Homo sapiens: one gene and its partner. The protein of the gene in region 1 purifies or fractionates together with the protein of each later gene. This does not show direct contact. Each region holds a gene or a part of one and is shown in the gene's direction. Other genes may lie near its edges.

The links.
Region 2: the proteins of NNMT (region 1) and GLOD4 fractionate together in Homo sapiens (co-fractionation; one large-scale study listed by BioGRID). This does not show direct contact.

What each region holds. Positions count from the first base shown.
Region 1 is NC_000011.10:114,302,823-114,306,648, forward strand, and holds part of NNMT (nicotinamide N-methyltransferase), read left to right. Parts: intron 1-3,826. UniProt on the Homo sapiens protein: Catalyzes the N-methylation of nicotinamide using the universal methyl donor S-adenosyl-L-methionine to form N1-methylnicotinamide and S-adenosyl-L-homocysteine, a predominant nicotinamide/vitamin B3 clearance pathway.
Region 2 is NC_000017.11:758,557-762,108, reverse strand, and holds the end of GLOD4 (glyoxalase domain-containing protein 4), read left to right. Parts: intron 1-1,870; coding exon 1,871-1,936; 3' UTR 1,937-2,779; downstream 2,780-3,552.

The sequences.
Region 1 (3,826 bases):
AGGTGGAGACTTCATGAATGGGATTAGTGCCCTTATAAAAGGAACCCCATAGAGCTCTCTAGCTCTCCTTCTGCCATATAAAGGTACAATGAGAAGTCAGCTGTCTGTGGCCCAGAAGAGTCCTCATCAGACCCTGACCAGGCTGGCATCCTAATCTCAGACTTCCAGCCTTTAGAATTGTAGGAAATAAATTTCTGTTGTTTATGAGCCACCCAGTCTATGGTATTCTGTTACAGGAGCCCAAACTAACTAAGGCTATATTATGCATATATTTAAGATCTTTTATATTTACCCACATATCTTTCTTCTCTAGTGTTTTTCATTCCTTTCCCAAGATCTGTTCTTCTGTTTGGCATCATTTTCCTTCACCTGAAGAACTTATTTTAGTATTAGTTATAATGCAGTTCTGCTGGAGACAAATTCTCTTAACTTATCAAGTCGGGTAAAAAGTTAGTAATTGTTTTCCTCCCTGCTAACTTGAGGAATTTAACAATTTTTGATAACCAAAGTCCCCTGGCATCTCTCTTACCAGTATTTATTATTGAAATCTGAGATTTTAAAGTTCAAATATTGTAATTTAAAGTATTATTTTTATATTTTCTTTCAAGATCAGTTTGGACATTTGCTTTTGGTTTGTAATCAAATTTAGAATTATTTGGACATATTTGGTGCTCATTTTATACAATTTTTCTAGATATTGAGTCTTTAATTTTGGTTCATCTGTCAACTGAATAGATCTTCAAATATTTATTTCAAGAGGAACATACAGTGACGTGTTTTCTAAGTCCATGCATATATGAGAATGTATTTTGTCACTCTTACACATGAACAAAATCATAAAATTGTTTAAATATTGCCCCACTTTTTTTCTGACATGTAGTAAGAAGTTGAGAGAGGCTATTCTATTTTTTTTAGACAGGGTCTTGCTCTGTCACCCACACTGGGGTGCAGTGGTGAGATCTCACTGTAGCCTTGACCTCCTGGGCTCAGGTGATTTCCCACCTTAGCCTCCTGAGTAGCTGGGACTACAGGTCCACACTGCCATAGCTGGCTAATTTTTTGTAGAGATGGGAGTTTTGCTCTGTTGCCCAGGCCGGTGAGAGCCTATTTTCATATGCATTTTAACCTGTATACCCCTGACTTAGAATTTTATATTGGCTATAGCCTTCAAAGTGGGGCTATATTCTTCAATATAAAAATAATTTCATACACCTTTTTTTTCTGTTGACTATGTGATTCTACAGAATGAAATTGATATTAACTAGAAACAATTGCAGCTATGACAATTTGGACAATATCTAAAGTTATTTAGTAAATAAGGAAATTCCCAGGGTTTGTAGAATCTCAGGGAAACTTTGTAATAAGTAAATAAATCTTCAGTCACTGTTAGACAACACACCTTGCCAAAGTCCAAATCATCTGTCAAGAAGGCCTTTGAAACTTTGTTCTCACTTTCTGTATCCACCACCGGCCTTTCCATCTCATTCAAAAATAAACCCTTACAATCTAGCAGGATAGTAAAAGCATTACTTATCTCACACCTGAAATGTCAGCTTGGAACAACTAGCTCTTGAGACACTGTCCCCTCCCAATCACTCTGTTGGACATTGCATTTTTGGCAGTAAATTTCTGCATTCTTATCCTTATCCTTGTGCTAGATCCTGTGGCTTTAATTATTTTAAGAATGATAATGATCCTATGCAACTCATGTCTTTCCTGCATCTTCAAGTAGCTTTATCAACCTACAACCTATTTCCTTCAAGATGATTTCTTCTTTATCTGAAGTTTTTTCTTGTGCTAAAGGCTGCCAAAGACGTATGTACTGTCTCCTGTTCTTCTACCTCTGCATTTAAATACCACTCATTTTAAATTAGCTGGCCATAGTGGTGCACACCCGTATTCCCAGCTACTGGGGAGGCTGAGGAGAGAGGATCACTTGAGCTTGGGAGATCGAGGCTGCAGTGAGCTGTGGTCACATTCCAGACTGGCTGGCAGAGTGACACTCTGTCTCAAAAATAATAAAAAATAATAATAAAAATAAATAACCCTCATTTTTACAACTATCCAAAAAAGTTTTAAGAAAGTCAAACACTAAGATACAATTACTCAAGCTTATACAATGAACAGAGGAAAATGAGCTCTTTCCTTAAGAAATTGTAGAAGCTGCATTACTTAACCTATGGTTCCTGGAACTTGGAATGCATAGCTTAGGCTTGTGGTCCCTGGACTAGTAGTTTGACAACACGTGGGAGCTTTTAGAAATGCAGGCTGTCAGGCCCCACTAGCTACCTACAGAATCAGAACCTTCACTGTAAGATCTGCTAAGGGTGGTATGCACATTACAGTAGAAGAAGCACTGGTGTCTGGAGCAGGGCTTCCCTCTAGGTGTGCCAGGGCACACACACAGGTGGGTGGGAATCAGTTGCAGGCATGCTGTCCAAGCTGTTTTCCTTGGCCCTCTTGACAGCAGGTGGGGCATGGACCACCTCCTGGTTGCCTCTGTAGAGAGTGGCTCCTCCTTTTTTTTTTTTAATTTTTTATTATACTTTAAGTTCTAGGGTACATGTGCACAACGTGCAGGTTTGTTACTTATGTATACATGTGCCATGTTGGTGTGCTGCACCCATTAACTCGTCATTTACATTAGGTATATCTCCTAATGCTATCCATGCCCCCTCCCCCCACCCCACGACAGGCCCCGGTGTGTGATGTTCCCCACCCTGTATCCAAGTGTTCTCATTGTTCAATTCCCACCTATGAGTGAGAACGTGTGGTGTTTGGTTTTCTGTCCTTGAGATAGTTTGCTCAGAATGATGGTTTCCAGCTTCATCCATGTCCCTACAAAGGACATGAACTCATCATTTTTTATGGCTGCATAGTATTCCATGGTGTATATGTGCCACATTTTCTTAATCCAGTCTATCATTGTTGGACATTTGGGTTGGTTCCAAGTCTTTGCTATTGTGAATAGTGCCACAATAAACATATGTGTGCATGTGTCTTTATAGCAGCATGATTTATAATCCTTTGGGTATATACCCAGTAATGGGATGGCTGGGTCAAATGGTATTTCTAGTTCTAGATCCCTGAGGAATCACCACACTGACTTCCACAATGGTTGAACTAGTTTACAGTCCCACCAACAATGTAAAAGTGTTCCTATTTCTCCACATCCTCTCCAGCACCTGTTGTTTCCTGACTTTTTAATGATCACCATTCTAAGTGGTGTGAGATGGTGTCTCATTGTGGTTTTGATTTGCATTTCTCTGATGACCAGTGATGATGAGCATTTTTTCATGTGTCTGTTGGCTGCATAAATGTCTTCTTTTGAGAAGTGTCTGTTCATATCCTTTGCCCACTTTTTGATGGGGTTGTTTGATTTTTTCTTGTAAATTTGTTTAAGTTCTTTGTAGATTCTGGATATTAGCCCTTTGTCAGATGGGTAGATTGTAAAATTTCTCTCCCATTCTGTAGGTTGCCTGTTCACTCTGATGCTAGTTTCTTTTGCTGGCAGAAGCTCTTTAATTTAATTAGATCTCATTTGTTAATTTTGGCTTTTGTTGCTATTGCTTTTGGTGTTTTAGACATGAAGTCCTTGCCCATGCCTATGGCCTGAATGGTATTCCCTAGGTTTTCTTCTAGGGTTTTTATGGTTTTAGATCTAACATTTAAGTCTTTAATCCATCTTGAATTAATTTTTGCATAAGGTGTAAGGAAGGGATCCAGTTTCAACTTTCTACATATGGCTAGCCAGTTTTCCCAGCACCATTTATTAAATAGGGAATCCTTTCCCTATTTCTTGTTTTTGTCAGGTTTGTCAAAGATG
Region 2 (3,552 bases), on another chromosome or scaffold:
TTGTCAACTTACGGTCTGTCCCAAAGCAAACAGCCAGTAATTTTTAAAACCGTTTAATCCGATAGCTCTCTCTTGCCTCTGAGATAAATTTCAAACTCTCTGACAGAGCATGTGACATTTTTGGACATTCTCTACCCTCTGACCTTCTTTCCCACCTGCCTCCCTAAGTCCCCTAACTCATCCCTATTCCAGTCCCACTGAACTGGTTATATTAGCTAAGATACTTCTTCTTGCATCCAACCCAAAGGGTTTTTTCCCTCTCCTCTTTTACTTGTCCTTCAACACTTAAAAGCTTTCTTAGGTTCAGCCGGGCGCGATGGCTCACCCCTGTAATCCCAGCACCTTGGGGGACCAAGGCGGGTGGCTCACCTGAGGTCAGGAGTCCCAGACCAGCCTGACCAACATGGTGAAACCCTGTCTCTACTAAACACAAAAAATTAGCCAGGCACGGTGGTGTACGCCTGTAATCCCAGCTACTTGGGAGGCTGAGGCAGGAGAATCACTTGAACCCAGAAGGCAGAGGTTGCAGTGAGCCGAGATGGCGCCGTTGCACTCCAGCCTGGGCGACAAGAGCAAAACTCCATTTCAAAAAAGAAAAAAAGCTTTCTTAGGTTCTCCAAATAATTTAGTTGTTCTTTCCTCCCACTTTTTATGGCTCCTAAAAGACAGAAACGTGCATATTTGTGACTTGTGGTTTTTTTAAGCATATCTTTGATTTTTAAATTCTTATTTTCATCAAGATAATAAATCAGATAGTACTAAGATTTTTTAGAAATGAAACGGTCCAACTCTGAGTCACACTACCTAGGACAGCCACTTTCACCTTCACTGTTTCTAAATAATAAATATATTTGTTTCTTCTTTTTCAATTGCCACCTCATCTTGTGACTTCCTGCTGAGGTAGATATTATAGCAAATGCTTCAAGACACACACATGCGTACACACACTCTGTCATGCAAAATACTTGTTTCCATATCTGAGTTCTCAGCTGTTCTGCACACTCCTCAAAGCTTCCGACTGTCTCTGCTGCCACATCTGAACCCAGCGTGGTACCTGGCTCTTTTTGACTACATAAATGAGTGTTTGTCCTTACTAAACAACGAAAGGGATGCTTGTGGAACCAAAACATTATTGTTAAGGCTTTGTATTATTCATTTATTTTTATTTGTATCTGTATGTATGTATATGAGACGGGGTCCCACTCTGTTACACAGGCTGAACTCGAATTCCTGAGCTCACGTGATCCTCTGGCCTCAGCCTCCAAGTGGCTGTGACTATAGGTGTGACCACTGGGCACGGCTTAAGGCTTCCTTTTTAATTAAGATGCCCAAACTAAACAGAACCAACATCAGAAGAGTAGGCCGGGAGGAGACTTACGAAAAAGGAATCATTCCAGGCTTCATCACTAAAACATCACGTAGAGTTTCATATTTGGCCTCACTATCAGACTGAGTTTCATGACACTAAAGATTCTTGAGCGTCTGCCCAGATGCTGTGAGTGGCAGGACTTGCTCTTTTACCAGAGATCCTACCGCCTGGCATGCGGGTCCCTGACCTCGTTGGTCCGCCAGCCACACTTCCTGGCTACAGGCTTGGTTTGCCCTTGACTCTGCCGAGTGAGGATCCACAGTTGCTCATTATCACCAGTATCTCTTGCCTTATTGAACATAACACTCTGTACTGGATTAATACTCTTTAAATGTTAAAAAATTTTTTTTATTTCTCTTCTCTTTTTTTTGGAGCGGGGGTTTGGGTCCTTTTTTTAATGTTAATTTTTTTTATTGTGGTCAGTACAGTGAGATATAAAGTGGGCTATGTCTTTTGTTTTTCAGGCTTGGAGTCAGTGTATATTCTATTTCTATTTTACAGGCAATGGCAGCAGATAAAAGTGACGAGTGGTTTGCCAAACACAATAAACCCAAAGCTTCAGGTTAACGGAAGACATGATGCAGAGCAAGCCTCTGTGATTCCTGCCCAGCACCTGTGAGGCCTGACGTGTCAGTTCCCAATAAATGCTCTTCTGATTTGTTTCCCGTACAGGCAAGGAGGCTTGGGTAGTGCAGATTTGTGTATTTCAATCTTTGAAAGCTCTGATGTAATTTAGAAATGAAATCCAATCATGAGTCCAGGTAGAGAACGCCTGCTGTAATCTACACTGTTGCTGGGACTGCGCATTCTGTATATAACTGTGTTGGATGAGTGACAGATGATTGTCCAGACTAGGACAGCGGCATGAACATGACTTTGGTTGGGATTGCGGATAGTTAGGGTTACCTCTGAATCGTGTAGCTTTTATGAGAGCAGCTGTGCAAGTGAATCCACATTAATGCCTTGTCGTGGTGCCATTCCCAGCGCCTGACGATACGCTCTTCTATTGTCTTATTCTGGCAGGTTTTGACGTTTTAAATTTTTTAAAGAAATTTTATTCCTTGGACCAAAAGGTTTGGTTAACCACCCCCCTCTTACTTGCTTTCACATTTTGAGTGTCCAGAGGAAACAGAAAGGAATGAGTGTGTGACGTTGCTGCACGCCTGACTCTGTGCGAGCTTCTTTCTGTGTATATATTTTGTTTTATTTTTTTCCGTGTATATTTTTAATCCCGACAGAACATCATGTGAGATTTCTTTAAAATGGATTAAACGATTTCTTCAGCCTGAAAAAAAAGGTTTTGAAAATGTTTTCTTGTAGTTTTGTTTGGTTCTAAACAACAAATAGGTTTTAATCACTCGAAATGGAATTATATTGTGTATTCATTGAATAAATTTTTTTTGAAAGTAAGCTTCTGAAATCAAGCTGTGATACCAGTCTCTAAGTCTCATCATGTAAAGTGGTGGCCAGGTTCAGATTTTTAAAAATAAACTTAGGAGATTGGAAGGGATTGACTCAGAGGATCCTGGTTCCCAAAGAACACATAGAGAATTACTTGTAAATCGTAACCTCTGCTTTCCTCCCTTACTGGCAGGGCGTAGGGCATCGAAATTTTGGTTGTATTTGAGCTTATCTTCTTATAGGGGTGATGCTATTATACCTTCACGGAGAGAAATAAATTCTCATCCAGCTCTACAACTTTTCATTCAGCTTGAATTCCATATCCTAGGGAAGCAGTCTTGAGTTTCAAAGCAAACCAAGTTATATATATGGCCCTCCTCTAGGTAATTGGTTCTTTTTATTTTTTATTTTTTTTTTTTGAGACAGAGTTTCGCTCTTGTTGCCCAGGCTGGAGTGCAATGGCGTGATCTTGGCTCACTGCAACCTCCGCCTCCCGGTTTCAAGCGATTCTCCTGCCTCAGCCTCCCAAGTAGCTGGGATTACAGGCATGCGCCACCACGTCTGGCTAATTTTGTATTTTTAGTAGAGATGGGCTTTCTCCGTGTTGGTTAGGTTGGTCTCGAACTCCCGACCTCAGGTGATCCACCTGCCTCAGCCTGGGATTACAGGTGTGAGCCACCGTGCCCTTCTCTTTTTTTTTATACATGTGGAAATTATTATATGAACTTTGAATAACCAGGTAAACTTCTGCTTCTCTTTAGAATGTATGTTAATTTTCCAAT